Homo sapiens: one gene and its partners. The protein of the gene in region 1 purifies or fractionates together with the protein of each later gene. This does not show direct contact. Each region holds a gene or a part of one and is shown in the gene's direction. Other genes may lie near its edges.

Region 1 (3,500 bases):
AGACTTCTTCCCAAATATTGGTCTAATATCTACCAAACACATATGGTCCATGAGGGCCAGACTTCCATCATCAGTTCATGTTTGCCCTTTCCACCAGTCAGTTCTGCATTTGCAAACATCCACATGTATTTCCAGAAAGATCCACATGGTCCTCACCTGCCCTCTACTGGGGGAAGGGAGCATCATAGACCCACAACAGGGAACATGGTCTTGGTTCAAAGCTATCAGCTCTTGCCTGTCCCCTTCACTCTTTGTAGGTCATTCCTTGGACTCTGCTCTATCTTTAGAGGTCACTGGCTCAAGTCAGTCACTATGAGACACCTGGGAAAACTGCCCCACCTTGTGGCTGCACTGCCTGATGACTGAACTGACCTCCAGGCTTGACTCTGGTCTCCCCTGTGTTATTTCTGCTGAAGTACCCAGTCCCAGGCCAGGCTTTCCAGTACCCAAAGGGTTTAAGGACAATGGGAAGTTCCATCATCCATCTCTAGGATGTCCTTGGCAAGGGAAGCTGCAGAGAAAACATACCTTGGGGGGAAAAGTAAGACTGAAACTAAGAAGATTCCAGCACTGCATGCTCCAAGTCAGGACCAAAAGGTGGGCCAGGCAGGCAGTTGGAGATGGAGGGACTCAGAGAGGCACCAGGGGCTATGACTGCTGGTCCTGTGTCTTTCCATGACCCAATGCTGCTGCTCAATTCACACCTGAGAAAGTCTGTGCTTCTCCCACATAAAGCAGGCAGCCTCACAATCTCTTAGCCTTCAGAATGCCATGCATCTGTGTTGTAACACACACACCTGCCATGGGCTTTTAGGGACTCGGGTGGGCTGAGAGGTGGCAAATGCCAATTCTGATTGAAAAATGCCTTTGGAGGAATCAAAGGTGCCACACAGGGCAATCTTCTCTCTGTTTTCTGCACAGTGGAGACTCCCAAGCCCTCCATCTCCAGCAGCAACTTAAACCCCAGGGAGGCCATGGAGACTGTGATCTTAACCTGTAATCCTGAGACTCCGGACGCAAGCTACCTGTGGTGGATGAATGGTCAGAGCCTCCCTATGACTCATAGGATGCAGCTGTCTGAAACCAACAGGACCCTCTTTCTATTTGGTGTCACAAAGTATACTGCAGGACCCTATGAATGTGAAATATGGAACTCAGGGAGTGCCAGCCGCAGTGACCCAGTCACCCTGAATCTCCTCCGTGAGTATCTTCTGTTCCTCTGTGAGCCAGGCTGCCATCCCAAATACACATGGCCAGAGGCCAGGCCTCTCAGTCCCTCTCAGGTCCAAGTACAGAGACCTTTACCACTGGACATCAAAGCTGGCCATGACTTTCTGCCCCAGACAAACCACAGTAGGCCTAGGCTTGATCCACAGTGGGAGAAAAGAGGCTGCTCCTGTCATGGGAGGCTCAGGGTCCACAGATTGTGATGGGAGAAACAGGTGAATGTCTCAGGCTCCAGATCAGTGAACACAGCGAGGATTTGGCTGGGACTTCAGTCTTGCGACTTGGCTCACAGGGTCACTGTGGCCCTTCCACAGACCAGGATTTTCCCTTCCCTCTGACAATGTCACCTGTGACTTTATTCTCTTTGCTCCAGATGGCCTGGATGCCCTCACCATTTCTTCCTCATACACCTATTACCATACAGGGGAAGTCCCCAAGCTCTCCTGTCTCATAGACACTCACCCACTGGCAGAGCATTCTTGGCTGATTGGTGGGAAGTTCCAGCAATCAGCACAAGTGTTCTTCATACCCCAAATCACTAAAACATATAGAGGGGTCTATGTCTGTTTCATCCATAACTCAGCCACTGGTGGAACAAATCTCATAATCAAGAGGATCATAGTCCCTGGTAAGTGGATCCCTGGAGCATTGGCACTATGTTTTCCAGGGAAGTCTATCTAGCTATCAGGGAAGAGCCACCTGCCCTCTGCAAAGGGAGAGGGAAAATCAAAAACCCAGGACAGGGAATATGTTTCTGCTCCAAAACCACCAGCATTTGCCTGTCCCCTTCACTCTTTCTAGATCATTCTTTAGACTATACACTAACAATGAACAATCTGAAAGGAAATTAAGGAAAGAATTTCAATTCACATTAACATGAAAAGGAATAAAATATTTTGGAATAAGTTTAACCAAAAAGGTCAAATGATTATACCTTGAAAACTACAAAACATTGCTGAAAGAAATTAAAGACAATATCATTATATGGAAAGACACTTCATTTTCATGGACTGGAAGAATCAATATTGTTAGAAAGACAATACTACCCAAAGTGAGTTGCAGATTCAATGCAACCCCTACTAGAATCCCAGTAACATTTTTTGCAGAATTAGAAAACTCTGTCCTAAATCTGACCTGACAGGCACTTATTAATGACTGCCACAACAGAAACACTGTGAAAAAGATGCAACCATGAAAAGGTGGAAAGTTTTGATGACATAGAAAATAGCAATCAGCCTTTCTCACATCCCAAAGCCTTCAAATATATATGAGTGCAGCATGGCCAGTATGGAATTCACCGAAAACTAATCACCAAGCTAGAAATGTGGTGAGAGAAAAAAAAGGGCAAGAATATATTTGGCTTATCACTTCCCACTTTTGTCTACTAATCTGATGCTGAAAAGAAATTCTCACTGAAGCATTTTAGATTTTGAATCTTTCAGATTTGGGATGCTAAACCAGTAAGTATATGACAAATATTTCAGAATCAAAAAATGTCAGAAATCCAAAACACTTTTTGTCCTAAGTCTTATGCATAAGAAATAATCTGTGTGAACAATACGCATCAAGCTCTACAGCAGATCTCTAGAAACTCCCCAACTTGTATAACGGAAACTGCACACCCATGAACAACTTCTGATTCTCCCCACTCCCAGCTCCTGGCAACCAGCAGTCTCTTCTCATATTCACTCTGGAATCCATTTACATGAGGTCCCTAGAGTAGTCGAACCCAGGGGATCAGAGAGTAGAATATCCAATGAAAGAAACTACTTGCAAAACTTTTCTCCAAATTTGTCTCATATCCATCAAACACATATGGTCCATGAGGACCAGATTTCCAGCAGTTCATTCCCACCCTTTCCACCAGTCAGTTCTGCATTTGCAAATGTCCACATGTATTTCTGGAAAGATCCACATGGTCCTCACCTGCCCTCTGCAGAAGGAAAGGAAACTTAAAGGACCCAGGACAGGGAACATGGTTCTGCTCCAAAGCCACCAGCTCTTGCCTATCCCCTTCACTCTTCCTAGATCATTCCTTGCGCTCTGCTCTATCTTTAGAGGTCACTGGTTCAAGTAAGTCATCATGAAACACCTGCAAAACACTGCCCCACTTTCTGCCTCCACTGCCTGATGACTGAACTGACCTCCAGGCTTGACTCTGGTCTCCCCTGTGTTATTTCTGCTGAAACATCCAGTCCCAGGCCAGGCTGCTCAGTATCTTCAGGGTTTCAGGACAATGGGAAGTCCCATTATTACTGATCTCTAGAATGTCC
Region 2 (3,500 bases), on another chromosome or scaffold:
GGCAAGAAAGAGCATGTGCAGGGGAACTGCCCTTTATAAAACCATCAGATCTTGTGAGACTTACTGTTGTGGGAACAGCATGGGAAAAAACCCATCCCCATGATTCAGTTATCTCCCACCGGGTCCCCCCCACAACACGTGGGAATTATGGGAGCTAAAATTCAAGATGAGATTTGGGTGGAGACACAGCCAAACCATATCACACATTTTATGGTCAGTGATGTCCAGTCATCAGTTGTTGGACACTCGGATTGTTTCAACTCTTTGACTTCTATGGATAATGCTGCTGTGGGCATTCATATGCAAGTATTGGTGTAGACGTATGTTTCCATTTCTCTTGAGAGTATTCCTAGGAGTGGAATTGCTGGACCATATAGTATGTTGAACTTTTTTAGTGTCTTCTGTAGTGTTTTCCAAGGCAGCTGCACCATTTTATCATCCCACCAGCAGTGTATGAGGACCAATCCTTCCATTTTTAACCTCTTGCCACAGCACCTGGGGCCTCCCCATCTCCAGGTCACCTGGGGTCACGATGGGTAGGTCCCCTGGGTTCTCTCTTCCTTGGGGCTCCCCTCTGCTGCAGCAGGGGTCTCTGCTCTCCCTCATCAGTTACCCTTCCTGTGCCTGTTCCTCATCTTCTGGGGGGACTTTGTATCTCCTGTCTGCTCCTCCTCTTGGTCCTGAGAGTTGAGAGCTCTTTGGTTCCTATAGCGGGTTTGTTGGGAGTAGTGCTAACAGCGCACGCCCTGGCTGCTGTGTCTGACCAGGAGCCCCTGTTCCAGTGTAGGGTTTCCACCTCTGCCTTCAGGTATGTCCCCTCAGCTGGGCACACCCTGTCTCCTCTGCCCTCCACTCTTCTTGTGAAGCCCAGCCCAGGTAACGGCCAGCTTCCCCTCATCATGTAGACTCTTCTTCCGTGTGCTACGTCTGCTTCTACCCACACTTTTCTTTTCTTTTTTTTTTGTACAGATGGGCGTTTCACTTTGTTACCCAGGCTGGTCTCGATCTCCTGGGCTCAAGCAATCCTCTCGTCTCAGCCTCCCAAAGTGCAGGGATTACAGGCATGAGCCACTGTGCCTGGCCTAGCCACACTTTTCTCTGTGCTCTTGTAGTATCTGTTTTCACAGTTGTCCCCCTCCCACCCCCACCGCCTTTTAAAAATTTTTAAAATTGTGATGAAAAACACATAACAAACTTTACTGTCTTAACCATTTTAAAGTATATAGTTCAGTCATGTTAAGTGTATTCACGTTGTCTAACAGTTTCCCTGAACTTTTTTATCTCCCCAAGCTGAGACTCCATACCTGTTGAACGCTAACTCCCCCTTTCCTCCCTCCCTGCAGCCCCTGGCAATCACCTTTCTACTTTCTGTCTCGATGAATTTTACTTCCCCAGATACCTCATATCAGTGGAATTATACAGTATTTGGAGTTTTTTTGACTGGCTTATTTCACTTAGTATAAAGTCCTCAAAGTTCACCCATGTTATAGATAAGGGAAGATTGGAGATTGTTGTAATCTAATTTTGCTGCTATTACAGAATATTTGAGACTGCATAATTTATAAGCAATGTAAGTCTATTTAGCTCACAGTTCTGGAGCCTGGAAAGTCCAAGGGCATGGCATTGGCATCTTGCCGTGTCATTTGCAATTGGCATTATTCCATTCAGGAGGCCAGAGCTCTATGGCCTAATCTCAAAGTTGCCATCTCTTACCACTGTTCCATTGGGGATTAAGTTTCCAACACATACTTTTTGAGGAACACATTGAAAGCATTGCAGAGCCTTATTCATCTGTTTGCCCTTGGAGCCTAGCACACTGCCAGGCACATTGAATAAGCTTAATTAATGATTAGTGAATTGAAGTGGCTGCAGTGTCACAGGAACCCAAAAGAGGGACAGCAGAAATTGCCATAGTTGGTATGAGGACATCCTGACCTAGACATTTTTGACCTAGTAAATGTTTTGTTCATGATGGGCATTTGACAGTTATTTTCATCAGAATTATATCAACATTGGTGAGTTTATACCAAGAAATATTTTCTGCAGCAAATTCTATTATGCCCACTTAAATCCTTGCTCAGTTTTTTTTTTTTTTTTTTTTATGTAGGTCAGTTAAACCATTTCTAATATGTGGCAGATAACAATCTGTGCTCAGATTTACAGATAAGCTATTCTGGGATTATTTCGAAAGGTAATGCTCTTTTGGGTGGAGGACTTCAAGATTAATTTGTGTACTAATTAACAAGTTAAAGATCATACCAGAACAGTGATCTTTAAGCACGGACCTGTAGTGGTCAAGAAAGTAACACAGGCATTTCCAGTATTAATGCCAGATATTTTGGTTTATACTCCTTGAAAGACTGCCTGAATTTCAGGCTGTGTAGAACTGACTCATCCTGGAATCTAGGCCTACATATTGCATATCAGGAGGTGCAATATGAAAATAAAGTCAAAGCAAGGGCCCAGGCATGGTGGCTCATGCCTGGAATCCCAACACTTTGGGAGGCCAAGACGGGCAGATCGCTTGAGGTCAGGAGTTCGAGACCAGCCTTGCTAACGTGGTGAGACGTGGTCTCTGCTAAATATACAAAAATTAGCTGGGGGTGGTGGTGTGCACCTACAGTCCCAGCTACTTGGGAAGCTGAGGCAAGAGAATCACTTGAACCCAGGAGATGGAGGCTGCAGTGAGCCAAGATGGTGCCACTACACTCCAGTCTAGGCGAGACTCCATCTGAAAAAAAAAAAAAAAAAAAAAAGACAGCAGAACATCCTTTAACACACATTTTCTATATTTATTTTCTTCTACTGAAATCATTTTCAGTGAGATGAGGTGGGTCCTTTGCCTTATACTTTTTAGAGTGGTGATCTGATTCACTGATCAATTTTTGTTTCAGTATCTAATTTTTATTGATTACAGTTTCCTTATCAAGTCCAATATGCTGGTGGAGGGGGTAGCGAGGGGTACCCAGTTTCACAGGGTGTTGTCTTTAGCTGCTCTGTATGTGTGCATTCCCACGCACCGCTTATTTCTGGCATAGAAAATGTATTACGAATGGAATGAAGGAATGACAACTTATGTTCATTTCTTAGCTACTGCATGAAAAAATTGGGAGCGATTCCCTTCAGGTATTCCAGGGTGGCCTTGCCATCTTGCATGGGTGTGTTTCACTGCCAACTAAGTCTCCTTGCTCCCAGTCACTTTGAAAACCACATGCGAACTGCTCACACCACTGGAGCAAAAGAGCAAAAGGCAGAGTCCAAAGACTTCATTTGGGAAGGCCCCCCAGGAGGGGTGAGAAGGAAGACCTTTGCAATAGGATAAATATCCGCATTCCCCAGTTCCCCTCTCTGGGTCTGTAAGGCTTGGATCTCTGTTCATTTTTTCTAGGTCCATGGAAAGAAATTATTCCTTAGATTTGATCTAGATGAAGAAATGGGGCCCCCTGGCAGCAGCCCAACACCAGAGCCTCCACAAAAAGAAGTGCAGAAGGAAGGGGCTG
Region 3 (3,644 bases), on another chromosome or scaffold:
CGAGACATTTTCCTCCTGTTTGCTTGAGTTCGGTTGGGGGGAGGAGATAGGGTAAAGGATCTGCTGGCACTATAAATTGTCACACAGTGTAATTACCAATCTAATGAGAATTTTATTTTTCTCTGAACAGTGGTGGAACGTTGTCACTGGGGAATCCTCACAGACCTTCTACACAAATGGAACCAATCTTAAGAAAATACACGTGTCCCCTGACTTCAAAACATATGTGACTGTGGATAATCTTGGTATTTTATATATTTTACAGACTTTAGAATAAAATAGTTAAGCATTAATGTAGTTGAACTTTTTAAATTTTTGAATTGGAAAAAAATTCTAATGAAACCCTGATATCAACTTTTTATAAAGCTCTTAATTGTTGTGCAGTATTGCATTCATTACAAAAGTGTTTGTGGTTGGATGAATAATATTAATGTAGCTTTTTCCCAAATGAACATACCTTTAATCTTGTTTTTCATGATCATCATTAACAGTTTGTCCTTAGGATGCAAATGAAAATGTGAATACATACCTTGTTGTACTGTTGGTAAAATTCTGTCTTGATGCATTCAAAATGGTTGACATAATTAATGAGAAGAATTTGGAAGAAATTGGTATTTTAATACTGTCTGTATTTATTACTGTTATGCAGGCTGTGCCTCAGGGTAGCAGTGGCCTGCTTTTTGAACCACACTTACCCCAAGGGGGTTTTGTTCTCCTAAATACAATCTTAGAGGTTTTTTGCACTCTTTAAATTTGCTTTAAAAATATTGTGTCTGTGTGCATAGTCTGCAGCATTTCCTTTAATTGACTCAATAAGTGAGTCTTGGATTTAGCAGGCCCCCCCACCTTTTTTTTTTGTTTTTGGAGACAGAGTCTTGCTTTGTTGCCAGGCTGGAGTGCAGTGGCGCGATCTCGGCTCACCACAATCGCTGCCTCCTGGGTTCAAGCAATTCTCCTGCCTCAGCCTCCCGAGTAGCTGGGACTACAGGTGTGCGCACATGCCAGGCTAATTTTTGTATTTTTAGTAGAGACGGGGTTTCACCATGTTGGCCGGGATGGTCTCGATCTCTTGACCTCATGATCTACCCGCCTTGGCCTCCCAAAGTGCTGAGATTACAGGCGTGAGCCACCGTGCCTGGCCAGGCCCCTTCTCTTTTAATGGAGACAGGGTCTTGCACTATCACCCAGGCTGGAGTGCAGTGGCATAATCATACCTCATTGCAGCCTCAGACTCCTGGGTTCAAGCAATCCTCCTGCCTCAGCCTCCCAAGTAGCTGAGACTACAGGCACGAGCCACCACACCCAGCTAATTTTTAAGTTTTCTTGTAGAGACAGGGTCTCACTATGTTGTCTAGGCTGGTCTTGAACTCTTGGCCTCAAGTAATCCTCCTGCCTCAGCCTCCCAAAGTGTTGGGATTGCAGATATGAGCCACTGGCCTGGCCTTCAGCAGTTCTTTTTGTGAAGTAAAACTTGTATGTTGGAAAGAGTAGATTTTATTGGTCTACCCTTTTCTCACTGTAGCTGCTGGCAGCCCTGTGCCATATCTGGACTCTAGTTGTCAGTATCTGAGTTGGACACTATTCCTGCTCCCTCTTGTTTCTTACATATCAGACTTCTTACTTGAATGAAACCTGATCTTTCCTAATCCTCACTTTTTTCTTTTTTAAAAAGCAGTTTCTCCACTGCTAAATGTTAGTCATTGAGGTGGGGCCAATTTTAATCATAAGCCTTAATAAGATTTTTCTAAGAAATGTGAAATAGAACAATTTTCATCTAATTCCATTTACTTTTAGATGAATGGCATTGTGAATGCCATTCTTTTAATGAATTTCAAGAGAATTCTCTGGTTTTCTGTGTAATTCCAGATGAGTCACTGTAACTCTAGAAGATTAACCTTCCAGCCAACCTATTTTCCTTTCCCTTGTCTCTCTCATCCTCTTTTCCTTCCTTCTTTCCTTTCTCTTCTTTTATCTCCAAGGTTAATCAGGAAAAATAGCTTTTGACAGGGGAAAAAACTCAATAACTAGCTATTTTTGACCTCCTGATCAGGAACTTTAGTTGAAGCGTAAATCTAAAGAAACATTTTCTCTGAAATATATTATTAAGGGCAATGGAGATAAATTAATAGTAGATGTGGTTCCCAGAAAATATAATCAAAATTCAAAGATTTTTTTTGTTTCTGTAACTGGAACTAAATCAAATGATTACTAGTGTTAATAGTAGATAACTTGTTTTTATTGTTGGTGCATATTAGTATAACTGTGGGGTAGGTCGGGGAGAGGGTAAGGGAATAGATCACTCAGATGTATTTTAGATAAGCTATTTAGCCTTTGATGGAATCATAAATACAGTGAATACAATCCTTTGCATTGTTAAGGAGGTTTTTTGTTTTTAAATGGTGGGTCAAGGAGCTAGTTTACAGGCTTACTGTGATTTAAGCAAATGTGAAAAGTGAAACCTTAATTTTATCAAAAGAAATTTCTGTAAATGGTATGTCTCCTTAGAATACCCAAATCATAATTTTATTTGTACACACTGTTAGGGGCTCATCTCATGTAGGCAGAGTATAAAGTATTACCTTTTGGAATTAAAAGCCACTGACTGTTATAAAGTATAACAACACACATCAGGTTTTAAAAAGCCTTGAATGGCCCTTGTCTTAAAAAGAAATTAGGAGCCAGGTGCGGTGGCACGTGCCTGTAATCCCAGCTCCTTGGGAGGCTAAGACAGGAGGATTCCTTGAGCCCTGGAGTTTGAGTCCAGCCTGGGTGACATAGCAAGACCCTGTCTTAAAAGAAAAATGGGAAGAAAGACAAGGTAACATGAAGAAAGAAGAGATACCTAGTATGATGGAGCTGCAAATTTCATGGCAGTTCATGCAGTCGGTCAAGAGGAGGATTTTGTTTTGTAGTTTGCAGATGAGCATTTCTAAAGCATTTTCCCTTGCTGTATTTTTTTGTATTATAAATTACATTGGACTTCATATATATAATTTTTTTTTACATTATATGTCTCTTGTATGTTTTGAAACTCTTGTATTTATGATATAGCTTATATGATTTTTTTGCCTTGGTATACATTTTAAAATATGAATTTAAAAAATTTTTGTAAAAATAAAATTCACAAAATTGTTTTGAAAAACATTTTTGGATTGTTTCATTCTTTGCTTGTCATTTATCTGTTGATTAGACCACTAAAGTGAAGGATTCAAGCTAAATACATCAACCTTTCTATTTAGGCTTTATCAGCTATATGTAAATTCAATTCTATCAAAATTTTCTGAGTGCCTCCTCAGTGTGTCTCTCTGATGGTTCCTGCCCGGTATGGCTGGCATGAAGAAGATCCTGTAAAAAAGAGAATTCATTTATTTATTCACTTAGTTTGTTCATGCATTTGTTTAATAAATATTGAGATGTACCATGTGCCTGGCATTGTGGTAGGTATTGGGAACACAGGAGTGAGCAAAACAAAAGTCTTGCTCTACTGCAGTTAAGGGCCAGGGAGAGGCAGAAAAAGTAAATAAGTAAAATCTATAGTGAATTTGGTGGTATGTACAAGCGGAGGGGAAGGGGTTACGGTTTTAGATGGACTGGCTCTTTCAGAAGCTGACACTTGTACAGACCTGAAAGATGTGAGGAAGTGA
Region 4 (3,926 bases), on another chromosome or scaffold:
TTAATGCTCCTCAAATTTTAAAAATTGATGTTTCCCTTCAGGTCTTGCAATTTTGTGGAAGAAACCAGAGTTCTGTAGTTTACCACATCAGAATTTGCCTGTTGTCCCCATGAAGTCACTTAACATATTCCTCTTTACCTGTATTTCCTGTAAAATGGTTCAATATCGGGATTGATGCCTCATGATGGCAATGTTTAATCCAAAGGGATGAATGGGTAATAATGTAATTTTCGGTGCCACTTTTAGAGACCAATTGGAGGAATATTCACGTTAAATATAAAGCAGTAGCATCATTTTGGAGGAAATTCCTAACTTCCCGAGGGAATCGGTGAAAGGAAATAGCCTTTTATTGGCATTTATTGAGTGCAGAGAAGTCTGCTCAGGGTGTAGGTAGGGAATAATTTATACAGGCCACGTTGTCCTGGTTTTCTTGCCCTTTGGCGGTGGATTTGGTCGTGCCCTGGGGTGGTGGAAGAACTGAATGGGCTTAATTCACAAAGGTCGGCTGAATTACACAGTGAAAAGGCGGTCGCGGCGGGGAGGCGGGTGGCGCTGGCCACCAGGCTGAGAAGCCCGTAGGGTCTGGGGACCCGCGAAAGCAAAGCACTGAGCAGGGGGCTTCTGAGAGTCAGGGACCGGGGTGAGTCAGCAAAGCTCTGGGCAGGCTCCAAAATGGGCCTGACTGGGTACGCACCAGCAGCAGACGCGCCTCGAGGGAGCGCATAAAACCTGGCAAAGCCAAAGTGCTTTATCAGCCGCCTGCCTCTTGGGAGGCTCCCACCCGCCAGACCACGGGTGCCTCGCGGCCCCGATAAACCTTGAGCTCCCAGCCTTTGCCCCACCCCTCGCTCCCGGAACTCCACCTCCCAGAAGGCAGCGAGAACCGCACATGTGGCTAATCTTTCAGCGGAAAAGGTGTCGCGCACGCGCAGAGAGCGCGGCTCCGGCGCAGACTCGGCGCCTCTCCTCAAGGCCCCGCTCGCCCCGCCCACCGGGCTCTGCGCACTCCGCTCCTTTCCTGCGTCACCGCTACACATGCGCCTTGCAAGGAAGGGCGAGATTTCGGGGGCAGGGCGGGGGGCGGGCCTAGGCCGGGGTCTCACAGCGACTGCGCGGACGGGTTCCTGAGTGGAACATGGCGACTTGCGCCGAAATCCTGCGGAGCGAGTTCCCCGAAATTGACGGACAAGTCTTCGACTACGTGACCGGTAAGCAGAACTGAATCGGCCGGCTGGGGAGACCGAAGTGGAGGCCGGGGGAAAGTCTAAGCGAGCGTCGTGCCCGGGACTGTTGCCAGGCCTCTCCTCTGCATGACCTCTTGTCCCGGGGGCTGGTTGGGTCTGGAGCCTGGACTGGGGCCTCTGTCTGGGGTCTGAAACTGCTTGTGTGTCCACCCTACCCGATACCTTCCTCGTTCTACCACGCCCTGCCCAGGCGTCTTGCACAGCGGCAGCGCGGACTTCGAGTCTGTGGATGACCTGGTGGAAGCTGTAGGGGAACTATTGCAAGAGGTGTCCGGGGACAGCAAGGATGACGCGGGCATCAGGGCCGTGTGCCAGCGCATGTACAACACTCTGCGTCTGTATGTGCCAGGGAGTAGGGGTTGATGGGGGCGAAGGGACGGCGAACGGTCCGGAGACAAGAGGTGGGGGAGGAAGATCTGATGGCCATAGAGCTTTTCCCTCAACTCCTAACTCTGCGCTTTCTATCCCTACCCACATAGGGCTGAGCCACAAAGCCAGGGAAATAGCCAGGTGCTACTGGACGCCCCTATCCAGTTGTCAAAGATAACGGAGAACTACGGTGAGAGTGAGGGGAGGTTGAACTAACTGCCCCCCTGTGCTTTTCTCCGCCCCCAACCATCTGCTGCCTGCAGCTTAGGGCTCCTACGTCTTTTCCACAGGACAAGGTTGTAGGAGCTAGTTGATGTCTTTACCGAGGGCAGAAGAGCCCATGATGGGGGTGGGGAGGAGGTTGGAGGGTTCTCCCTCCAAGCTCTTGGGTAGGATAGGAAGCATAAGAGCCTGGAGCTGGACAGACTTGCTTTCACCCCCAGTTTTGCAACTTGCTAACCAGCTGCATGATCTTGTAAGAGTTGGTTATCTGTCCCCAGCCTTGTCTATGCCTCTGTATCCTTCTACGTGAGTTTTGTTTTGTTTTGTTTTGTTTTGTTTTTAGTGCAGGGAAGATAATAGCCATCTATCTGCAGTATTATAAGGTTTTGTAGAAAACATCTGTGTCTGTGCCTGGTTCCTATTAGTCACTCAAAATGTTAGTTTCCCTTCCCTCAGGGAGAAGGTGACTGCTTTTCTTATCGCTTACAGACTGTGGAACCAAACTTCCAGGACTGCTAAAGAGGGAACAGTCCTCGGTGAGGAGGAGGAAGCAAGGGAGGGGACTGTCTGTGATGGGGTTGGGAGTTGACTGTCTAATTGGAGTATCTTTTGGGGGGATTTCTGACTATGTCTTTTCCTGAGCCTTTGAGTCTGTTCATCATGGGTAAGTTAAGAGGGTTTACTCGAGATGTTCTCTCTTGGGGTTCCTTTCTGAGCCTACACCCGAGAGTGAAGTCGATGTGTTTGGACCCTTAGACAGTGAATGCAAAGAAGTTAGAGAAGGCCGAGGCTCGACTTAAGGCAAAGCAGGAGAAGCGCTCAGAGAAGGACACGCTCAAGACCAGCAACCCTCTGTGAGTGGGGGAAGCATGGCTCAGAAGAGAGCAGAGCAGCTTTTGCCTGGACAGAAGGTGGTGGGGAGCACTAAGAGCTGTCCATTTCTCCCTTTAAAGAGTCTTAGAAGAGGCATCAGCCAGCCAGGCAGGCAGCAGAAAGGAGAGTCGGTTGGAATCATCTGGCAAGAACAAATCCTATGATGTGCGAATTGAGAACTTTGATGTGTCTTTTGGCGATAGGTGAGGGAATAGTGGTGGCAGGGGTTGGCTTTCTTTTTCTAATTAGAGGACAATTTGGAGAGGTGAAACGGGGCTATAAACAATGTTAGGTTTGTCATTAAACTTGCTGTGCACCTATTTCTAGAGCATCTTTGGTCTCCTTTCTCCACTCCTGCAGAGTACTGCTGGCTGGAGCGGATGTGAACCTGGCATGGGGCCGCCGTTACGGGCTGGTGGGGCGGAATGGGTTGGGGAAGACAACGTTACTGAAGATGCTGGCCACCCGGAGTCTGCGGGTTCCAGCCCACATTTCCCTGCTGCACGTTGAGCAAGAGGTTGCTGGAGATGACACTCCTGCCCTGCAGAGTGTGCTGGAGAGTGACAGTGTGCGAGAGGATTTGCTACGGAGGGAGCGGGAGCTCACTGCCCAGATTGCTGCTGGCAGGTGAGGACTCCCGGCTAGGGAGTAACTAGCAGCCGCTGTCGCTTACAGAGCGCCTGCCGTCCTGGAACAATCCATAATTTGCATGTACATCCTAGTAATCAGCAGAGCTTAGAACTTGGCACTCTGGGACTCAGAAGCCCTTGTTCTTTCCACAGTGCCCATTGCCCTTTCTTGTTCTTTCCACAGTGCCCATTTCCATAGTGCCCAAGGTAATGAGCACTGTGCAAACCCTTCCTGTATTCTCTTCCTCTTCCAGCCACAAGGTAGCCAATGGCCTTTCCAACGGTATAGGGTGCAGGACATCCTCCTAGACTGCCCCTGCTTAGGCCAATTGCTGTTTCTCCTCCCTCCAGGGCGGAGGGCTCTGAAGCTGCAGAGCTGGCAGAAATCTATGCCAAACTGGAGGAGATTGAGGCTGACAAGGCACCTGCCAGGTATTTAAAGCTCCCCCTCCCTCCTTCAGATTTCCTTTCCCTTCTGTGGACTGTTCCAACTGAGTTCTTCGATTTCTTCTCTACTAGGGCATCAGTCATTCTCGCTGGGCTTGGCTTTACCCCTAAAATGCAGCAGCAGCCCACCCGGTGAGTGACC
Region 5 (3,041 bases), on another chromosome or scaffold:
GTTTGTACTGTAGTCATTTGATGCCTTCCCAGTGCAGTCATATGTAGCCTTTTAAAACAGAGACTAGAAGGACTGTGCTTCTATGAGAAAGTGCAAGATGAATCAGCCACTCTCCCCACCCACACACTTGAATGCAAGTCAAGACACGGTGGATGTAAGGAGTGGGCTAATGCCTGTAAAACACATCACACAATGCCTGGCACATAGTAAGTGCATAATGCATGTTTTTAAAAAGCTTCAGATGATGTGAAAGAACTTCAGGACACTAGTGAGTGAACTTCTGCTTCTGCTACTCCCAATCCAAGCATTCATGAGGTTGAGGTGTACCCTATGTCAGCTGTTCCCACTCTTCACTTCATTCCTGATCAATATTCCCCCCCGCCAGTACCCCAGATTAAATCTTCAGCATCACTCAGCTCCAATGGTGTTTATGCTTCCAATTTCTTCCCTCTTCTCTTTTTTCAAGGGCCATCAAAGAGCAGATATGATCATGCCATTCTGCCTAAGAGCTTTCTATAGGGTTTTAGAGGATAAATTCTAAACACAAAATCACTTTTAAATACAGATGCTTCTTGACTTATGATGGGGTTACATCCTGATAAACCCATGGTAAATTGAAAATATTACAAATCAAAACAGCATTTTCCATTTACCATATGTTCAACTTAAAATAAGCTTATTGGGATGTAGTCTCATAAGTGTAGGAGAATGCTGAATGCATATTTCTTTGACACCATCATAAAGTTGAAATATCAGATCGAGCCATCTTAAGTTGAGGACCTTCTGTACTAATTTCCCCAATCTCCTTGTATCCTTCATTTTTCAATTTGTGCCTTGCTCATGATTAGTTCTCTTTTTACAATGTCTTTACTCATTGTCTCTTTCTTTGTAAAAATATTACTTTTTGAGGATCTAGTAAAAATACTACCGCCTAGACATTTGTGTGTCTAGAGCACATGGCTGTAAAGTTTTCATCTACAGGTTTGTGTGTGTGTTTCTTTTCTTTCATGTAGGACACTAAGGACCAAGAAAGGTGTTCACAATTGCATGCCTATACAACTCTGGCCATTAATTTTTTTTTTTTTTTTTTTGAGACGGAATCTCACTCTGTCACCTAGGCTGGAGTGCAGTGGCATGATCATGGCTCACTGCAACCTCTGCCTCCCAGGTTCAAGCAATTCTTCTGCCTCAGCCTCCTGAGTAGCTGGGATTACAGGCACCTACCACCACGCCTGGTTAATTTTTGTATTTTTAGCAGAGAAAGGGTTTCACCATGTTGGCCAGGCTGGTCTTGAACTCCTGACCTCAAGTGATCTGTCAGCACTTGGCCTCCCAAAGTGCTGGGATTACAGGCATAAGCCACTGTGCCTGGCCAAATTTTGATTCATCAAATTATATTGCCCAGGTCATAAAGGAAAAAAGAGAAATAATAAAAGTTAGGTTTTTTATTCTCAGCACATACTAATTTTCTGTGGCATAAATTTTACATGATAGACATGGTGTATGTTAGATTCTGCACTGAATTGTTTTTCCTCAGAAGACATTGAATGACTAGAACAATTGTTTGCATTCACAGCTTAATACAGGAAAGTGAAGTGTTGAGATTTTGGAATCCCTTCTCCCTTGGGATAGTGAGAGGGGCAGACAGAAGGGGTAGTGTCTGAATATTGTGGTTCAGGCCAGCTCAAATCCTACCACCAATAATTGCACGAACCTACTTGTAGCCACCAATAATTGCCCCATATTGAAATGTAACCCCCAAGGGTTCTCCTCTGTCTTCTTGACCACTGTATGCCTAACATGTAGAGCAGTAGACACTGAATATATTTGGTGTGTGATGAATAAATGGATGAATGAATAAATGCACATGTGTGTTAGGTACCTGGCTAAGATCAGACTGCATATTGCCTAAAGAATTCTTTTTCTCAACTTGAAAATTTTTAGCCAATGTGAAAATTATGTTTGCGACTGTCACTTCATCATTGCCAGGTTCAAACACTGCAGTGAATTTTTTTTTTTTAACCAAAAGGCCACTCTCTAACCACCTGAGGAAAAGCAACTAAAAACCACTTATGTTTAGAAATTCAAGAAATGATTCTTATGAGTTTGCCAAAATTCCCATTAGTTATTTATAAAATGTTGTAAGTCAGGCCTTGCTTCAAAAAATATCTTGAGAAACCACAAAGCAAAGAAAGTGGCATACATCTACGAGCTTTTTCCATGTTAGGCTGGGAGAACATTCTGTAACAGGAAACCACCGTGCTCATGTGTGCCCTGAGAGAAGAAAATCTTCACACAAGAAGTAGAGAATAGGGAAAGAAATGCATAGCAATGAGCCTCAGAGGCAATGCCTATATTGTGCTGTGAACTGATAATGTCACTTGGAAGATAACACGTAAGAGGTAGTTCCCAGCCCTGCTCTTCTCACGTAGGACATGTAGGACAGACCTATGTGTTTTGCTTTCTGGGGAGAGGGGATCAGTTGTATGACCCCCTTTATTATTTCCTCTTCACCAGTTCTGGTTTTCTAGGTTTGAGGACTGAAATCTTGAGAAGTAGGATCTGATCTTTCTTCCAAGAAGCTCTTCTCTCCCCACCTGTCCTTGTGTTCTTTATCCCATCAATAGCTAAGAAGCAGAACCTATTACTTTTGCTTAAATGTTTTAAATTAAGCAAATAGATACATTATGAGGCTGCATTTTAAACTTTAGATATTTCAAATAAGACATGCAATATAGAGTCTTAAGGTAAAACAAAAGAGCATAATGCTAAAAAACAGGCAACAAAAAGAAGCTAGAGCTTTGAAATAGCTAGTCAGGTAAACAGAGCACTTTAATTTAAAAGAACACACCCTAAATCTTGTTTTATAGAGGAATTTTACTGTGTCATGGATTTGGAGCATATTCTTCTCAAGCCATTTGGTATATCCTAAATTCTAGGTATACGTGAGATTAAAGAAGAGATACTCACTGATGTGCCTCCGTATGGAGTGATAGTTGGTGCATGGGAAATGGCAAGGGCTGTTTTGTTTCATTCTCTCT
Region 6 (3,500 bases), 1.1 Mb from region 1:
TAATGCTCCCGTCTCTGCCCCAGAGGCTCAAGGACTATCAGCGGCGCCTGGACTTGTCCCACCTTCGGCAGAGCAGCGACCCTATGCTGAGCGAGTTCAAGGTGTGACCATACCCTCCTGCCTCCCCCGCCCCCCTACTCCTTGGCCCAGGGGATTCTGTGATACAGCCCCCAGCCTGTCCTGCCCATCCCATAATACACCCAGGAAGCGAGAGCTCTGTCCCCCACCTCATGCCAATCCCATGATCCCCAGCCTGTGGTCATCCCCGGCCACTGCCCTGCCCTTCCCCTCCCCACCAACCCCAATCACCCCCTGCCAACCTGCACAAACCATCACCCCCTCCTGCCCCAGAACCTGGACATCACCAAGAAGAAATTGGTCCACGAGGGCCCACTGACGTGGCGGGTGACTAAGGACAAGGCAGTGGGTGAGTGCCAGAGCAGCTGCCTAGTGCAGGGTGTTGGGGCAGTGAGCCAAGGGCGGGGAGGGGGTCGCGCGGGGGCACGCCGTGTGAGCACTGCTCGCCCCGTAGAGGTGCATGTGCTGCTGCTGGACGACCTGCTGCTGCTGCTCCAGCGCCAGGACGAGCGGCTGCTGCTCAAGTCCCATAGCCGGACACTGACGCCCACGCCCGATGGCAAGACCATGCTGCGGCCCGTGCTGCGGCTCACCTCCGCCATGACCCGCGAGGTGGCCACCGGTGAGTGCAGCCACTGCATGGCCCAGGGCAGAGGGTGTCTTTTTTGGGCAGAGCTGCCTGTGGAGTGGGGAGCAGAACCCTCTAGAGAGCCAGGGAGCCAGCATTCTAGCAAAGAGGTTGAGAAGTAGGTGGAGGTGGGCAGGGCGGGGCCAGGCCTAGAGGGTTTATAAGTGAGGTAGGAACTGCTGCAGGTGTTTGCACAGAGGCGTGTCTTGTGTAAACAAGGAGAAGAAAGGCCAGGAGTCCAGTGAGGAGGGATTTGTAAACATACTACTAGGAAGTTGCACCAGGGCCACAAACACTGGAAGCGGCTGGAGGGTGGGAGTGGCTGGAGGGGTTTCGTTAGGTAAGCCAGGGTACATGCCCGATTCCATAAGGAGGTGTGAGAGGTGGGGCTCAGGAGGACACATCGGGCCCTGGATATTAGCAGACAGTGAGTGGTGAGTTGAGCCATGGGAGCCCTGAGAGCGCCACCACTGTGGGTGACTTCTCCAGCTTGTGCTTAGGGAGGGGCAGGCACTGGGGGGACCTGGGCTCTGAGCCCCATCTCCCCCTCTCCCTGCAGATCACAAAGCCTTCTACGTCCTTTTTACCTGGGACCAGGAGGCCCAGATATACGAGCTGGTGGCACAGACTGTGTCGGAGCGGAAAAAGTGAGGGGGGGTCTGAGTTCTGAGTGTGGGTGGAGGACGCCCAGGTTTCTGGGTTCCCAGGGACAGGAGGGCTGTGGGGAGGCCCTGGCATAGGGTCTGGGGGCTCTGACTGCCCAGGGATTTGGCCTTTCTCCCCAGCTGGTGTGCTCTCATCACTGAGACTGCCGGATCCCTGAAAGTCCCTGCCCCTGCCTCTCGCCCTAAGCCCCGGCCCAGCCCGAGCAGGTGAGGGGGGCCATGGAGAGAGCTGGAGGTTCAGGGAGTGGGGCCGGAAGGCGGGGCAGGCTTCCCTCCACAACTCCAGAACCGTCTCTGTGTGAGCATGCACATGTGTGAATGCATGTGTGTGCATACATGTGTGTCTGTACGCAAGTATGTGACTGTGCGTGCATATATAGTGTGTGTATGCATGCATGTGTGCGTGTGCATGTGTGTGCGTGTATGGTGTGTGTGTATGCATATGTGTGCATGCGTGTGACAGCATGTGCATGCATGTGTGTGTGTGTGCGCATGTGCCGACCCCACCACTGCCCCGTCTGTCTCCTGTCTCCAGGCCTCTGTGTCTTCCATTGTCTGGGCCTCTCTGTCTCCCTGTCTCCCGGCCTCGACCTCTGTCTCTGTCTCCGGACCTCCCTGCCTCCCCACCTCCAGCTCTCTGTCTCCCTGCCCCTGCGGCCCCCCAGGGCCAGGGGTGTGGGGTCACCCAGCACTTCCTCCCCTCAGCACCCGAGAACCCCTCCTCAGCAGCTCTGAGAACGGCAATGGTGGCCGAGAGACGTCTCCAGCTGATGGTGAGACCAGAGGGATGCTGGGTGAGGGGCCAGGTTGGGGCTGCCGGGTGAAGAGAGGCATCCACAGGAGGCCCGGCAGGATCTGAGCTCCCTCTCTGTTCCCCAATCCAGCCCGGACCGAGAGAATCCTCAGTGACCTCCTGCCCTTCTGCAGACCAGGCCCCGAGGGCCAGCTCGCTGCCACGGCCCTTCGGAAAGGTAGCCCAGCTCTGCCCCTCCAGGGTGGCCACCAGCCCAAACAGTGCCTCTGTTCCAACTAGAACAAGGCTCTCCACGTCAAAAATTTCCTTACGCCCAGCTGCCAGAAAACAAATGCTCCAAACCCACCCAGCCTGCACCACTGTCCTGGGTGCCCACGTCCCTCTTCTGCAGCCACCATCCCTTGCTTGATTCTATATTTAGCCTCTTCCTGAACACATCTCTGTCTTCAGTACCTTCCTGCCCTGTCCCAACCCTAAACCCAGCCTCACTTCTTCACCTCCCTTTGGATCCCCGAACCCCATCTGCTCAGCCTTGCCTGGCACCCACCTTCACCTCCAGCCCCTACACATCCCCTTTGGAATCCCCCATCCCAGATCCCAGCCCAGCCCCCTGGTCTCCTGACTCCACCCCTCCTTGCCCCTGGCCAGTGCTGTCCCTGAAGCAGCTTCTGTTTCCGGCGGAGGAAGACAATGGGGCGGGGCCTCCTCGAGATGGGGATGGGGTCCCAGGGGGCGGCCCCCTGAGCCCAGCACGGACCCAGGAAATCCAGGAGAACCTGCTCAGCTTGGAGGAGACCATGAAGCAGCTGGAGGTGGGGCGGGACGGGCCAGGGGTGCCCTGAGTGGGCTGGGGAAGGAAGGGGCCCCCCTCATCCATGACCCCCACCCCACCAGGAGTTGGAGGAGGAATTTTGCCGCCTGAGACCCCTCCTGTCTCAGCTTGGGGGGAACTCTGTCCCCCAGCCTGGCTGCACTTGAGGTTCCCGCCCAGGAAGGTGAGTGGGGCACCTGGGGGCCAGGGCGCTGTCCTGAAAGGAGGGTCCCCCTCCAGAGCTCGCATCCCTACAGCCCCTTCTGTCCATCTCCCTCTTTGTCTTTTCTGAATCTCCCCACTCCACCTCGTGTTTCTCATCTCTGTGTCTCTGTTTCTGATAATCTGTTTCTCTGTCTCTGTGCCCGCCTGCCTCTCCCCACCTCCCCTTCTCTCTCTGCTCTCCCTGTCTTGTCTCTGTGTCTGTCTCTCCCTGTCTCTCTCTCCATCTCTCCCCGTCTCCCCTCTTCTCCTACATCCCCCAGGCCTTTTGCAAGAAGGAGAGGAATGGGGGAGAGGACGTGAGGGACCACCCCCACCCACACAGCTGCCGCAGCATCTCAC
Region 7 (3,500 bases), about 32 Mb from region 1:
CCTGTAGTCCCAGCTACTTGGGAGGCTGAGGCAGGAGAATCACTTGAACCCAGGAGACGGAGGTTGCAGTGAGCTGAGATGGTGCCACTGCACTCCATCCAGCCTGGTGACAGAGCGAGGCTCCCTCTAAAAGAAAAACAAAAAAAGAAAAGGAAATGAAGGAAATGAAGGCTGGGCATGGTAGCTCATGCCTGTAATCCCAGCACTTTGGGAGGCCGAGGCCAGTGGATCACTTGAGGCCAGGAATTTGAGACCAGCCTAGCCAACATGGTGAAACCCCGTCTCTACTAAAAATAAAAACATTAGCTGGGCATAGTGGCACAGGCCTGTAATCCCAGCTACTTGGGAGGGTGAGGCATGAGAATTGCTTGAACCTGGGAGGCAGAGGTTGCAGTGAGCTGAGATGGCACCACTGCATTCCAGCCTGGGTGACAGAGCAAGACTCTGTCTCAAAAAAAAAAGAAAAGAAAAAGAAAAGAATCTGTGTACCAGAAGAGGAAATGTGGGCCTGAGTATTCATGAGATCATGTGTGGGGTTGTTCATTGGCATGGGCTGTGGGTGTATAACCGCTGTCAGCATATGTATGTACACAGGATTTCTTGTGTATGAGCATGGGTTGTGTGTATATGGACACTGTTCATGTCTGTTTCTATAACAGGTAACCAAAGTCTGTATATGGTAGGGTGGTGTATATGCAGGCTTGTGAATGTACTCCAGTTGCATGTCCCAGGCTCTGCATGTGTAGGGGGTAGTAGTATGTTTTCTTGAGATTTTATTTTATTTTATTATTTATTTATTTATTTTTGAGATGGAGTCTTGCTCTGTCACGCAGGCTGGAGTGCAGTAGCGTGATCTTGGCTCACTGCAACCTCTGCCTCTCAAGTTCAAGTGATTCTCCTGCCTCGGCCTCCCAAGTAGCTGGGATTACAGGCATGCGCCACCAGGCCCTGCTAATTTTTGTATTTTTAGTAGAGACGGAGTTTCACCACGTTGGCCAGGCTGGTCTTGAACTCCCGACCTCAAGTGATCCGCCCACCTCGGCCTCCCAAAATGCTGAGATTACAGGCATGAGCCACTGCGCCCAGCCAATGTTTTCTTGAGATTTTAAATGTGGGGCTATTGAATGCACCAGTGGTGGCTGGGGTGTTCGTGCTTTTCTAGCCCTCAGCATCTGCAGATGGGCCAAGCTGTAGCCTCCACCCCTTACTGCCTGCAGCTGCCCCTGAGCCTGGACCTGCCCAGCCCCCGGCCCTTCGCTTTGCCTCTGGGCAGCCCTCGAATCCCCCTCCCGGCGCAGCAGAGCTCGGAGGCCCGTGTCATCCGCGTCAGCATCGACAATGACCACGGGAACCTGTATCGAAGCATCTTGGTGAGGGGCTGGGCTGGGGGTCTGCTGGAGGCTGCCCTGCCCTTGGGGCCGGGGCCCTCACCTCACCTCCCGCCCCTCTCTTCCAGCTGACCAGTCAGGACAAAGCCCCCAGCGTGGTCCGGCGAGCCTTGCAGAAGCACAATGTGCCCCAGCCCTGGGCCTGTGACTATCAGCTCTTTCAAGTCCTTCCTGGGGACCGGGGTGAGCAGGGATGGGTTGGAGCTCAGGATAGGGGGCAGCGGGGAGGCGAGCAGACTGACCACGCCCAAGGATGGAGCCCAAGGTTACCCGGGTTCACAGGGCTGTGAGGTGCTTCAGGCAGAGAGTAGGGGTAAGATAATCAGTGGAGGTAAGAGGACATAAAATACCTGTAACCCAACGATGTAGGGTCATGAGATTGTCTTGGCTCAGTGTGAGAGAGAGGTACCAAAGGTCATCTTCCTAAAATTTAAAAGACAATAAGATTGTCCAGGGTCCGGCCAGGCGCAGTGGCTCATGTCTGTAATCCCAGCACTTTGGGAGGTCAAGCTGGGCGGATCACTTGAGGTCAGGAGTTTGAGACCAGGCTGACCAACGTGGTGAAACCCCGTCTCTACGAAACATACAAAAATTAGTCGGGTGTGGTGGCACACTCCTGTAGTCCCAGCTACTCAGGAGGCTGAGGCAGGAGAATAATTGCTTGAATCTGGGAGGCGGAGGTTGCAGTGAGCCGAGATCATACCACTGCACTTCAGCCTGGGCAGCAGAGCGAGACTCTGTTTAAAAAAAAAAAAAAAAAAAAAGACTGTCCACGGACAAGTGACAGAAGGGAGTGTTTCTGACCTTCAATTTGTAGGATGGGCTGGGCATGGTGGCTCACAACTGTAATCCCAGCACTTTGGGAGGTCAAGGTGGGTGGATTGTCTGAGCTCAGGAGTTTGAGACCAGCCTGGGCAACATGAGGAGACCCCATCTATACAAAAAATAGAGAAATTGGCTGGGTGCGGTGGCTCAACGCCTGTAATCCCGGCACTTTGGGAGGCCAAAGCGGGTGGATCACTTGAGGTCAGGAGTTCGAGACCAGCCTGGCCAACATGGTGAAGCCCCGTCTCTACTAAAAATACAAAAAAATTAGCTGGGCATGGTGGCACATGCCTGTAGTCTCAGCTACTCGGGAGGCTGAGGCAGAAGAATCGCTTGAACCCAGGAGGCGGAGGTTGCAGTGAGCCGAGATCGCACCACTGCACTCCAGCCTGGCGACTGAGCAAGACTCTGTCTCAAAAAAAAAAAAAAAAAAAAAAAAAAAATATATATATATATATATATATAGAGAGAGAGAGAGAGAGAGAGAGAGAGAGAGAGAGATTAGCTGAGCATGGTGGCATGTGCCTGTATTCCCAACTCCAACTACTGGGGAGGCTGAGGTGGGAGGATCACTTGAGCCTAGGAGGTGGAGGCTGCAGCGAGCTGAGATCACGCCACTGCACTCCAGCCTGGGTGACAGAGCAAGACCCTGTCTCAATTAAAAAAAAAAAAGGGGGCCGGGCATGGTGGCTCACGCCTGTAATCCCAGCACTTTGGGAGGCCGAGGCGGGTGGATCACGAAGTCAAGAGATCGAGACCATCCTGGCCAACATGGTGAAGCCTCGTCTCTACTAAAAATACAAAAAATTAGCCAGGCATGGTGGCAGGCGCCTATAGTCCCAGCTACTCAGGAGGCTGAGGCAGAAGAATCACTTGAACCCAGGAGGTGAAGGTTGCAGTGAGCCAAGATTGCGCCACTGCACTCCAGCCTGGCGACAGAGTGAGACTCCGTCTCAAAAAAAAAGAAAAAATAGATTGTCTAGGGTCGAGTGAGAGAAGGGAGTGTAGAAGTTTGTCTGATCTTAAGTTTGTAGCATCATGAGATTGTTCAGGCTCAACCTGATGGGATGGGAGACTAAAGGGCATCTGGGCTTAGATTTGTGAGAACTAAGTTTGTTCACCACTGGGACCCTGAAGTTATCTGAACTTGGGACGGGAGAGAGGCAAATGGATAGCCGCGGAAGCATGAGATTGTCCTGTCTGACAGGGAGAAGCAAGGGATTGAGCGTATTCACGCTGAAGTACATGGCATGAGGTTGGCTGGATATTAGGAAAGGATGCTTGTGG

What was found.
Region 2: the proteins of PSG11 (region 1) and NEIL2 purify together in Homo sapiens (affinity purification with mass spectrometry; one large-scale study listed by BioGRID and IntAct). This does not show direct contact.
Region 3: the proteins of PSG11 (region 1) and APAF1 purify together in Homo sapiens (affinity purification with mass spectrometry; one large-scale study listed by BioGRID and IntAct). This does not show direct contact.
Region 4: the proteins of PSG11 (region 1) and ABCF3 purify together in Homo sapiens (affinity purification with mass spectrometry; one large-scale study listed by BioGRID and IntAct). This does not show direct contact.
Region 5: the proteins of PSG11 (region 1) and DSC2 purify together in Homo sapiens (affinity purification with mass spectrometry; one large-scale study listed by BioGRID and IntAct). This does not show direct contact.
Region 6: the proteins of PSG11 (region 1) and ARHGEF1 purify together in Homo sapiens (affinity purification with mass spectrometry; one large-scale study listed by BioGRID and IntAct). This does not show direct contact.
Region 7: the proteins of PSG11 (region 1) and RGL3 purify together in Homo sapiens (affinity purification with mass spectrometry; one large-scale study listed by BioGRID and IntAct). This does not show direct contact.

The regions. Positions count from the first base shown.
Region 1 is NC_000019.10:43,016,470-43,019,969, reverse strand, and holds part of PSG11 (pregnancy-specific beta-1-glycoprotein 11 isoform 1 precursor), read left to right. Parts: intron 1-921; coding exon 922-1,200; intron 1,201-3,500.
Region 2 is NC_000008.11:11,776,210-11,779,709, forward strand, and holds part of NEIL2 (endonuclease 8-like 2), read left to right. Parts: intron 1-3,388; coding exon 3,389-3,500. UniProt on the Homo sapiens protein: Involved in base excision repair of DNA damaged by oxidation or by mutagenic agents. Has DNA glycosylase activity towards 5-hydroxyuracil and other oxidized derivatives of cytosine with a preference for mismatched double-stranded DNA (DNA bubbles).
Region 3 is NC_000012.12:98,732,290-98,735,933, forward strand, and holds the end of APAF1 (apoptotic protease-activating factor 1), read left to right. Parts: intron 1-130; coding exon 131-277; 3' UTR 278-3,144; downstream 3,145-3,644. UniProt on the Homo sapiens protein: Oligomeric Apaf-1 mediates the cytochrome c-dependent autocatalytic activation of pro-caspase-9 (Apaf-3), leading to the activation of caspase-3 and apoptosis. This activation requires ATP. Isoform 6 is less effective in inducing apoptosis.
Region 4 is NC_000003.12:184,185,073-184,188,998, forward strand, and holds the start of ABCF3 (ATP-binding cassette sub-family F member 3), read left to right. Parts: upstream 1-1,126; 5' UTR 1,127-1,135; coding exon 1,136-1,208; intron 1,209-1,434; coding exon 1,435-1,582; intron 1,583-1,722; exon of another isoform or gene 1,723-1,723; coding exon 1,724-1,803; intron 1,804-2,291; exon of another isoform or gene 2,292-2,324; coding exon 2,325-2,371; intron 2,372-2,591; coding exon 2,592-2,689; intron 2,690-2,788; coding exon 2,789-2,911; intron 2,912-3,068; coding exon 3,069-3,335; intron 3,336-3,591; coding exon of another isoform or gene 3,592-3,598; intron 3,599-3,688; coding exon 3,689-3,769; intron 3,770-3,856; coding exon 3,857-3,916; intron 3,917-3,926.
Region 5 is NC_000018.10:31,061,381-31,064,421, reverse strand, and holds part of DSC2 (desmocollin-2 isoform Dsc2a preproprotein), read left to right. Parts: 3' UTR 1-3,041. UniProt on the Homo sapiens protein: A component of desmosome cell-cell junctions which are required for positive regulation of cellular adhesion.
Region 6 is NC_000019.10:41,903,684-41,907,183, forward strand, and holds part of ARHGEF1 (rho guanine nucleotide exchange factor 1), read left to right. Parts: exon of another isoform or gene 1-23; coding exon 24-101; exon of another isoform or gene 102-103; intron 104-351; coding exon 352-427; intron 428-532; coding exon 533-700; intron 701-1,265; coding exon 1,266-1,353; intron 1,354-1,491; coding exon 1,492-1,578; intron 1,579-2,076; coding exon 2,077-2,144; intron 2,145-2,255; coding exon 2,256-2,342; intron 2,343-2,773; coding exon 2,774-2,937; intron 2,938-3,019; coding exon 3,020-3,103; coding exon of another isoform or gene 3,104-3,120; exon of another isoform or gene 3,121-3,125; intron 3,126-3,421; coding exon of another isoform or gene 3,422-3,500. UniProt on the Homo sapiens protein: Seems to play a role in the regulation of RhoA GTPase by guanine nucleotide-binding alpha-12 (GNA12) and alpha-13 (GNA13) subunits. Acts as a GTPase-activating protein (GAP) for GNA12 and GNA13, and as guanine nucleotide exchange factor (GEF) for RhoA GTPase.
Region 7 is NC_000019.10:11,395,315-11,398,814, reverse strand, and holds part of RGL3 (ral guanine nucleotide dissociation stimulator-like 3), read left to right. Parts: intron 1-1,217; coding exon 1,218-1,370; intron 1,371-1,456; coding exon 1,457-1,571; intron 1,572-3,500.